Regions from separate parts of the Homo sapiens genome. Here region 2 is linked to region 1. The links come from fine-mapping of genetic effects on gene expression. A gene starts in region 1. The other region holds a variant in brackets. All regions are shown on one strand. Distances are between the middles of the regions.

Region 1 (5,379 bases):
ATCTCTCTGTTGCCCAGGCTGGAGTGTAGTGGCTCAATCTCCACTCACTGCAACCTTCACCCTGCCAGGTTCAAGCGATTCTCCCACCTCTGCCTCCAGTAGCTGGGATTACAGGCATGTGCCACCACACTCGGCTAATTTTTGTGTTTTTCTTTTTCTTTTCTTTTTTTCTTTCTTTTTTTTTGAGACGGAGTTTCACTCTTGTTGCCCAGGCTGGAGTGCAATGGCACAATCTCGGTTCACTGCAACCTCCCCCTCCCGGGTTCAAGTGATTCTCCTGCCTCGGCCTCTCGAATAGCTGGGATTACAGGCATGCACCACCACACCCGGCTAATTTTGTATTTTTAGTAGAGACGGCGTTTCTCCATGTTGGGCAGGCTGGTCTCGAACACCCGACCTCAGGTGATCCGCCCACCTCAGCCTCCCAAAGTGCTGGGATTACAGATGTGAGCCACCACGCCTGGTTAATTTTTGTATTTTTAGCAGAGATGGGGTTTCACCATATTGCCCAGGCTGGTCTCGAACTCCTGGCCTCAAGCGATCCACCAGTCTCGGCCTCCCAAAGTGCTGGGATTGCGGGTGTGAGCCACTGCACCCGGCCCAAATAGGGTCATATTCTGAAGCACTGGAAGTTAGGGCTTCAACATATCTTTGAGGGGGACACATTGCAACCCATACAGTATTCTTGGAACTGTAAATCGCGTTTTTGTACTAGAAATTCACTGCCCCTTTAGGCACTATGTATTCCTCTAATCTTATTTGTTACTCTTTTACGACTTTAAGAAATACAGAATTTGGTCAGTTTTAGCTGAGAGAGTAAACTTTGATGACTTGCATCAAACAGGGACTGGCACACAACTCCTGGAATTTCCAGTAAGAGAATGTGAATGGGGGACAGTTGCCGACTAGGTGCCTGAAAGATCATTTTTCAAGAAACACGTCAACAAACTTTGAGGGATACATGATAATTAAAAAACTAGCTTCAACCCGGGAGGCGGAGGTTGCAGTGAGCTGAGCCAAGATCGTGCCAGTGCGCTCCAGACTGTGCGACAGAGTGAGACTCCGTCTCAAACAAACAAACAACTAGCCCTTATAATCTTTTTTTTTTTTTTTTAGACAGGTGCATCTTTACACAGTTAAATTTCACTACTTCTTTTTTTGCAGATAAAAACTCAGGAGTTGAGAAATGAATAAACATAATAATAAATATGAGAAAACCATCATGATTTATCAAGCCTGGATAAATAATTTAATAAGTTCAGCATAGAAGACCTTGCTTTTTTTTCTTTCCTCCTTTTCTTCTTCTTTTTTTTTAACTTATTTATTTCAATAGGTTTTTGGGGAGCAGGTGGTGTTTGGTTACATGAATAAGTTCTTTAGTGGTGATTTGAGAGTTTGGTGCACCCATCACCTAGGCAGTGGACACTGCACCCAATGTGTAGTCGTTTATCCCTCACCTACTCTCACCCTAGCCCTTATAATCTTAAGATTTTTGGCTATTTAGGGCCATCTCATTCCTCCCTCCCTTCTTTGTTGCATTCTCTCTCACCTACTCCATTCCCCCCACCTTCCAAGTAAGACCATCTTTGGTAAGATGGTCTTGGTAAGAATGTGATACGCATTATAATAATTTTTCAAATCTTCAAAATTGAGGTATAATTACATACAATAAAATGAGAATGGCATGCAAATTTGTGCCTTTTTTAAAGCTTAGTAAATGTCATAATTTGGTTATAGTTTTTATTTTTCTGGATGCATTTGCTTTTCCTTACATCTACCATGCTCAGCCTTACAGAGATTTTTCTAGATGAATTTGCTTTTTCTCACATCTACCATGCTCGGCCTTACAGAGCTGCCCTTTATTTTAGAATTCCCTAAAGTGCTGTGTTGTACACAGGGAGCTTCTCCTGACTGGAACAACCTTACCTGGTACCACTCTTCCTTCAGGACCCAGATTCTTCTTTGAAACCTTTCCCTGGCCCCTTTGAATACTCTAGCTCTTTTAAAATGTATGTGGTTCTTTTTTCCCTGTTCAATTATTAATCTAACTAGGTTGTGAGTTCCTCCTCCAAGGACGTGAGGGTGCGATGTAGCTTGTCTGATTTTGCATTCCAAGTGTGTGCCCCAATGCCTGACACATAGTAGGTGCTCAATATATGTTTACTGTCAATAAGTTACAATTAACACCCCCATATGGTAATTCAGAGTTTTCATAGCGCGGTCAAACGATCTCATTTAACGCCTACTACAACCCTAAAAAATTCTAATTACTACCATCCTATCATTCTTGTTTGTAGAGTGTGGAGACTGAGAGGTTAACTGTCTTGCCCAGCGCAAGTCAACAGCAAAACGGAACTAAAATTTCAGGCTCGACACCACACAGCGTGTCGAGATCAGCACGAACTTGGCGCTGTGACTTTTCCTTAGAGGGGCCACTTAGGCTTACACTTCCGGATCCTGGGCACACAGAGACGCGAAAAGCTCCCGCGGGAAACTGGGGAGCGGGACTACATCTCCCAGAGAGCCCCGGGGCTAAACAGCAGGTGATTGGTTGATATTGACAGCCAATGCGGCTGCGAGGAGCTCGGGCAGACCAATCACAGGCCGGAAGGGGCGGGACCTCCCACGCCGAGGATAGATTGAGCGCAGAACTAACCGCGCTCTGAAAGGTTCTAAATGTCTGCGGGGCTCAGAGCCGGATGTCACGTCGTCCTCCTCTGCCGGTTTTCTCTTGGGTCCTTTTCCGTGCCGTCCCGCGACTCCGCCTCTGGCCGCGCGTGTCTGGCTGCTAGGCCGACACCAAGGACTGGCCGGGTACCCGGGAAGAAAGCACGTGCTCCAGCAGTTGCCGCGCCCAGCCCCGAGAGAGGCCCTAGGGCGCTGCGGGCTTTCGGGGTCCGCAGTCCCCCCGCGACGCGAGCCAACGGGAGGCGTCAAAAGACCCGGGCCTTGTGTGGCAGGCTCGCCTGGCGCTGGCTGGCGTGGCCCTTGGCCGTCGTCACCTGTGGAGAGCACGTCTTCTCTGCCGCGCCCTCTGCGCAAGGAGGAGACTCGACAACATGTCACCCGCGCTCCAAGACCTGTCGCAACCCGGTAACGCTGCGACCCCGTCTGCGTGGTTGGGTTGTGTTTCTTAACTCGTGCTGTGGCCTCCTAATCCCTGGGGCGATTCCCTTCTGCGGCGGGAGACGCCCGGCGGTGTTTCCCCGCGTGTGGGCGGCACCTTTAGAACTTAGCGCAGGAGCCCGGAGGGCTACGTGTTTTGCTCCACTCTTTGTCCGACCTTCACCTCTTTCTCCCCAGGCAAGCCATCAAAACCTGCAAAAAGCGTCCTCCCCTCGCCCCCGAAACACATTCTTAACGTCACAGTAACTAAACTTTCCAGTTCCACGCAGCATAAACCAGCTGGGCCCTCTGGAAGTTTTTTTTTTTGCATGGTGTGACGCTTATTCGTAAATATGTATTGCGCACCTACTGCGAAAGAAAGTTCAGGCGCGGAGAGACAGACGAGGAAACTCAGAGAACTATTTAAAACTACTACATGGAACTTTTTATTTTCTGCTTCTACGCACGCTGCTGCAAAACTGCAATATGCATAGACTCACTATGTTAAAATAGATGAGCAGACCCCACCTCCAGATACCGAAATGGGAGGTAGTAATTTCAAGCGATTCTGATGTTGGTGGCCCTGGGATCAACAGTGAGAAAAAGCTAGTTTAGCACGAGAACTGAACGTAATGTTAGCTTTATAACGAGCTCTAGATCTCTAAGGTCATGCCTGATTATAATTTGAGGACAAATACACCCGTAAAAACGGGTGAGGAGATGTAGAAACGAGAATTAGTGATAAGTACAAAACAGTAAATATCCTATCACATAGTGGGGATGTTTAGCTTCAGGAAGAGGGGGAATACTAAATTCGTAACGCACAAGGAAATTTATCAGAGGTTAACCGGTGACTCTCTTGATTCTTGGGTTCTGATAACGGGACTGATATAATTGTTCTTGAAACTAGTGGAACTGTGGCTGAGAAACACATCACTGCTGTTATTAAATAAGATATAAACCTCCCTATGAGAGGTTTATATGTTATTTAATATATTAAATAAGATGTAATGAGGTTACATCTTATTTATATTTAATATTTAATTAATAAATGTAAACCTCCCTATAAGAGATTTATATCTTATTGAATAAATGATCATAGGGAGATCATATTTATTTGGAAAACATCTTTTACTCATGATTTCTGGCCTCCCCCTTCCCATTTAATTTAAACAAGTAAAGTTATTTCCCTTTCATCTGAATTTAGGTGTCATTATCAGGAGCAAAATGCCACTGAAGACTTAAAATACTGTGAATAGTGAGTGATTTAAAAAAAAAAAATAAACTGAAAGGAAAATTGTTGAATGTTTGAATCTTGCCTAGTCCCCTCACCCCCAAGGCTGGCTTCTAGAGTTGAGCACTGAGTGGAGTTTAACCAAGTCTAGGGCCTCTGAAGTTCTGAATCAGGCCATTGTGCCTAGAAAAGACCTTAGATGTAGTCCAGCTTCTGTCTATGTGAGCAACTTTTATTGGGATTAGAATCAGGTTTTAACTTCCTAATAACCCTTAGTAATTTACTGGCGTACAATCTTAATGAAATTTTAATGGAGAGCTGGGAATTCCTGATTCTCAAGGTTGGGCCTTAAAACTAAATGTGACTTCAGACCATGGTTGTGTGCCCTGGGGAAGGAGGATGGTGGGCTAGCAAATACATCTTGGGAGAAAATTTTAACTACAGCTTCTAAAAGTTTCTTGGTTTCATCCTTGCTTAGGACTGTGAGTGTTATTTGGAACTCAATTGATGAGTGATTAATGAAGGAATGAATAATCCAGTGAATTGGTATCAATTGATGAGTGATTAATGAAGGAATGAATAATCCAGTGAATTGGTATCAGCCTAATTCTTCTCCGGCTTATTAAAATCAAAGGGGGAAATAATATATATTAAAAATGGAATACTGCACAAGCAAAGAGATGCCCCCAAAGAAGCTGGGCGCGGTGGCTCATATCTGTAATCCCAGCACTTTGGGAGGCCGAGGCGTGCGGGTCACCTGAGGTCAGGAGTTCGAGACCAGCCTGGCCAACATGGTGAAACCCCATCTGTACTAAAAATACAAAAATTAGCTGGGTTTATAGTGAGCGCCTATAACCCCAGCTACTCAGGAGGCTGAGGCAGGAGAATCGCTTGAACCCTGGAGGCTGAGGTTGCAGTGAGCCGAGATCATGCCACTGCACTCCATCCTGGGTGAGAGAGTGAGACTTAGTCTCCAAAAAAAAACAAAACAAAACAAAACAAAACCAAAAAAACAAAGTGTAGCAAGTCTGTGCAAACTA
Region 2 (5,379 bases), 240 kb after region 1:
CAATGGAAACTAATTGACTAAGTAAAAACACTTTCTAGGACATGGAATATAAATGGGAATGTTACAGGAATGAAAGTGGGGGCCCAGCATGGTGGTTCACATGTGTAATCTCAGCATTTTGAGAGGCACAGGTGAGAGGACTGCTTGAGTCCAGAAGTTCGAGACCAGCCTGGGCAACATAGTGAAACTGCCGTCTCTGCAAAAAAAGTAAAAAAAAAAAATTAGCTGAGAATGTTGGCGGGCACCTGTAGTTCCAGCTACTTGGGAGGCTGAGGTGGGAGGATCGTTTGTGTCTGGAGTTTGAGATTATAGTGAGCTGTGATTGTGCCACTGCACTCTAGCCTAGGTGAAAGAGTGAGACCCAATCTCTCAAAAAAAAAAAAATAAATAAATAAAGTTGAATGTGGGGTAGTTTACTAGGAGAAACATGAATAATGAAAATTAGTAGATAAAATGAGAGAATTAAAGCAAACTCTATAAAGAAAAATTGAAAAAGACTAAATGGTTCAGTAATGAGATATATTAATAAAAGTAAGTATTTTTTCTTATTAGATGGACATAGAAATCTGATTCGAAATGACACTACAGGATAGAGACTTGAAACAAACTCAACTGTCTATTTATTCATCAATCTGTCTATCTATATCGAGTATCACTGTGTGGTTTTATTTTGAAGGTACAAATTGAATTTAAAGAAACAATGGAGAGGAAAAATCCGAGTCATATGTATTGACAAATTTCAGTTATTTACCTTTTTAAGTACTGAGCAGGCATTGGTCTCATTTTGGAGATTTCGTGCAGGAGAATTTTGGATATTAATCAAAATAATAAGTTACATATTTAGAGAAAGAATAATCTAGAAGTCTTTGGACCGATAAGCCTAACCTGTCTATCAGGAAAGAGACTGGAAGAAAATAATTGTGTAACTATTTGATTAATATTTTCATAAGAACGGCAGCAAACAGGATGGCCTTGTAAAGAACAAATCCTGTCAGACTATAACTTCCTCTTCTGACAAAATGAGTAGTCAGCTGGATTGAAGGAGAGGTAATAGACTATCTTCACTTTGCCAAGGATTTTGATTTCTGCTCAGCAAGCAAATACATGAGACAGTTTTGGGTAGTGATGACCAATTTAGAAGGAAATAAGGCAAGGTAATGAGGGGGAAAGTGATGAGTGAAGGCTGATACCTTAGAAATGGTGGTCAGGAGTCTGGATGCGGTGGCTCATGCTTGTAATCCTAGCACTTTGGGAGGCTGAGGTGGGTGGATCACCTAAGGATAGGAGTTTGAGACCAGCATGACCAACATGGTGAAACACCGTCTCTACTAAAAATACAAAAAATTAGCTGGGCATGGTGGAGTGCACCTGTAATCCCAGCTACTTGGAAGGCTGAGTCAGGAGAATTGCTTGAACCCCGGAGGTGGAGGTTGCAGTGAGCCAAGATTGCGCCATTGCACTCCAGCCTGGGTGACAAGAGTGAAACTCTGTCTCAGAAAAAAACAAACAAACAAAAAAAAGAGACGGTGGTCAGGGAGGCCTCTTGGACAGGATGTTTCAGCCAGCATCCAAATAGTGACAAGGCACCAGTCATGTGACCTTCCCAGGGAGAGTGCTCCACAGAGGAGGGCTTAGTGGGTGGCCTTGGCCAGTGCGGTTAAAGTGCATTGAATAAAGGGGGCGGGTATGGGATAATGAGAGGGGTGGGAAAGAACAGAGAAGCAGGTCCCTGTTAGGTGTGTGATTGAGGGCATGGATTCTACTCAAGGACAAAGAGAAGAGGTATAGGGGGACTAGACCGGGCAGAGGCAGGAGAGAGAGGCTTTGGAAGCAGAGCAGAGGGTAGGGGGCCTTGGACTAGGGCACTGGCAATGACGTAATTAGAAGCATCCAGATTTGAGATATATTTAGAAGTAGGACTTGCTGATGGATTAGACGTGGGGAGTGAGGGAAGACAGTTAATCCAAAGATGATTCCTGTGTCTTTGGCTTGATAATGAGGCACCATCCACTGAGACGGGGAAGACTGAAGAACAAGAGGTTTGGGGAAGAGATTTGGGAGATGGGGGCTCTGTCTGGGAAACGTCCTATTTGAGCTGTCTGCTGTGCATTCCCATGGAGGGGCTGCGTAGATAGTTGGATATAATTGTAGAGCTTAGGGGGAGAGGTGGACGCTGGAGATAAACTAGAAGTCACAGCCTAGTGGTGATATTTGGATGATCTTATTTGGATTCTCACAATTTCTCTGGAGGCAGTTATAAAAAACAGTAGATGGGTGGGGGGCAGTGGCTCACCCCTGTAATCCCAGCACTTTGGGAGGCCGGGGTGGGCGGATCGCTTGAGGTCAGGAATTCAAGACCAGCCTGGTCAACATGGCGAAACCCAGTCTCTAGGGAAAATACAAAAATTAGCCAGGCATGGTGGCGGGCACCTGTAATCCCAGCTACTCAGGAGGCTGAGGCAGGAGAATTGCTTGAACCCGGGTTTAAGTTGCAGTGAGCTGAGATGGCGTCACTGTACTCCAGGGTGGGGACAATGGAGCAAGGCTCAGTCTCAAAAAAGAAAAAATTAAATTAAAAATAAAACCCAGTAGATGATGGAGGGTACGCCATTCACCCACGGGTGGCCAGGCGTGTCGGCAGAACTCAAGGCCCAGGAAGAAAAAGAGCAACAAGGAGGAGAGGTCAGATCAACAAAGGGGTTTCCAGGGCCCTCTGTGCCTTGAGCAAAGCCTTACCAGAGGAACAAACAAAAGTATCGCAAGGGACATACTTACACTAAGAAATTATTGGTGGCTTCTCTGAAATTTAAATGTATCTGGGTGCCCTGTCTTTTACCTGGCAACCCTACCTCAACATCAACAAAGGGTTGAAGCCTTCTTCTTTCCCCAGAGTTCCTGCAACTGCAGCCCTGCTTTTTAGCATGCTGTGCTGTCATCGCTTTGCACCTTTTTTCAGTCAGACGTTGTGTGGTTCCTGAAGGCAAACCTTGTGTGTGTTACGCACCTTTGTGCAATCGTTACATTGAAAGACCAGAGTTCAACAGGGATGCTGAAAGCAACTGTATTCTTTTCTCTCTCTGTCCCTTTACAACCATTTAGAGGCTTGTTTTTTTGCCTGGAGGACATTCCTGTCACTTTTAGTCACGAGCAGTCTTG[A/G]CTCCATGCTGGAATGTTCAGTCCAGTTTCACAACCATGACTTTAAGCTTCAAATAGAAAGTGTGTCTCCTTCCAGAGACTGGGAGCATCTGGCTGAGGAGCCTAAGACTGAAGGATGGACTATGAGGTCAGCTTCCCTTTAATTTCCCTCCTTTGAGCCGCTCCTCCTCGCACCCCAACCAGGCTGCTTTCACCTTCCAGAGCTGGAGGTGGCCACTGAGAGTGAGGCTGAGAGCATAGCAGGAATGGTCTTAAGTTACCAGCATTGGGAAGATCTTTGAAGGTGATTCTTTCTCTGAGTGATGTTTTCAGGGGTTGCTCAGGGGACCCACCCCTCTCCTCTTCAGCTCCCTACAAGTGCTGATGCCTCCCGCACCTCACCTCTCCCCAGCCCCGGCTTCTGCATCTTCAGCACGCCTCCATTCAGTCTCTTTGTGCTGAGGTTATCCAGCCCCTGGCAGGAAGCTTTCTTGGGTAGGCACCTTTAAGACGCCTTTAAGACATCCTAGGTTGCATGCCATAACCGGTCTAAGGGAAATACTTCCGTCTGCAGTCTGTGTCTGGCAGCTAGCTCCTGCTGTGGTTGTGTATGGTCCCCCAAAAGAGCCACTTACTATTTGCATTTCTCAGGCATGAGTCAGATAGAAATCTCCAGGGGACCCATATCAAGCTTTCTGTGTAGTCTCCTTGCAGCCTGTCTTCCTGGCTTGAGGCGAGTGGGGGATGCACCTCTTGTGCCCCCTGCGTCTCCTCCCTGAGATGGGGTGGGTGGGGTTAGGGATAAAGACAGCGCTCCAACTTTCTCCAAAGAAATCATCTCTCTCAGCCACTTCTACCTCTACTGTAAGCCTCAAAATCAGTTTCCAGCACCCTCTCTGCAAACCCCACATAGGTGTCCTACTATTCTCTTTAGAATGTGGGAGCCTTTGCTACCTGTTTTATTGTTTTTGACCTTTTGGTGCCTTAGCTGAGGCTGAGAAGAGAAAGTGCCATCCTGTTACATTTGTATTTTTAGCACCTACCTCAGTGCCTGGTACATAATAGGTGCTCAAAAATGTGTGCTTATTTATTTATTTAAGCAAACGAATCATTAATCAACTACAGTAAGAAAAGGTTGACAACTGCCAATCCAGATAACCCACTAGTGTAGCCCAGGAAAAATATTTCCATAGACCCTGAGATTTCACAATTGAGGCAAGATGAGACTTCAGGGAATTCAGAACGTCTGCTAAATTCCTGATTCCCCTAAGTACAATATAAAACTTAAAAATAAATCAGTGATGAGATTTTATGTAATGCCTTGGCCCATCTCAGATCAAGTGCAGATTCCTGGGATGGTGCCACCATTTCTTTGCTTCTTGGGTTCATCTCTGAGCTCTCTCCCTCGACCTTGGTCCTTCTTACTCCCTGTAATCATGAGGGCCACTGGTCTTCCTGGCCTATCCCGCCTCAGATCTGGATGGTGCCTTCTTACCATTCAGCTTACAAGTCACTTGCTCCAAGGAGCATTTCCCTTACGGCCTTCACCAGCCTGTCCCCTCACCACCCCATCTTATGTACCTGTCACAGCACTCACCTGTCTGCACTGTGCACACTATAAGCTCCAGGAAGCAGGCACTGCCTTGTTCACTCTGCACTCCAGGAAGCGAGCACAGAACCAGGCGGAAATAATGCTGAATGAATGAGTGGATTGGCTCAAGAGCATCAGTTGAAAACCCTCTGAGTGGGGCTTTAGGGTAGGTCCACCCTGCACATCTGCCTTCAGCTCTCATTAGTGCACAGCATATATTAAGGAGAGGATGTTGGTTTGGGCAACCTCAACCTTCATGGCTGAACCAAGCACCCATTGGTGGCTCAGTACACCTGCCACCTGAAGTGTAAGCACAGAATTCTGCCAAATATCACAGCATAGAGGCTGAAAGATCATGTCAATCTTGAGGTTTAGAGCTCCTTTTCTCTAATTCACATTCCTTAGTCCTTCACCTTTAGAAATTTCACTGTGATCACGACATCCAATGACAAATTCAAAAAGATAATTCTGTTTGTATCATACACCGTTACTTGGTTTAAATCCAACTAAGAACTGTAGAAGTTGGTGTCAACATTCTCCTGGATTTTATAACCTTCCAAAAGCATCACAGTCTTAGCTCTGTATGTAACCTCCTCTTTTCTCCTGTGCCACCTGTACCCCAGACGAATATAGCTAAATCAAGATGAAGCTAG

Direction of the effects. Positions count from the first base shown, and alleles are read on the strand shown. Sizes are in standard deviations (SD) of each study's normalised expression.
For the expression in atrial appendage of the gene that starts at base 2,648 in region 1, A is the high allele of the variant in region 2 and G is the other (small effect, 0.17 SD a copy in GTEx).

What was found.
Region 2: its variant is fine-mapped to the expression of MTR in atrial appendage (GTEx, PIP above 0.99).

The regions. Positions count from the first base shown.
Region 1 is chr1:236,792,645-236,798,023 of GRCh38, forward strand. It overlaps MTR (5-methyltetrahydrofolate-homocysteine methyltransferase), which reads left to right and starts at 2,648. Exons shown (of 33, transcript NM_000254.3): 1 at 2,648-3,093. The coding sequence starts at 3,060. RefSeq lists enhancers at 2,674-2,963, 3,064-3,253.
Region 2 is chr1:237,028,466-237,033,844 of GRCh38, forward strand. No RefSeq gene overlaps it. Among named protein-coding and RNA genes, the nearest start is that of RYR2, 11 kb to the right of the region's middle. The variant A/G (reference allele first, on the strand shown) is at 3,157.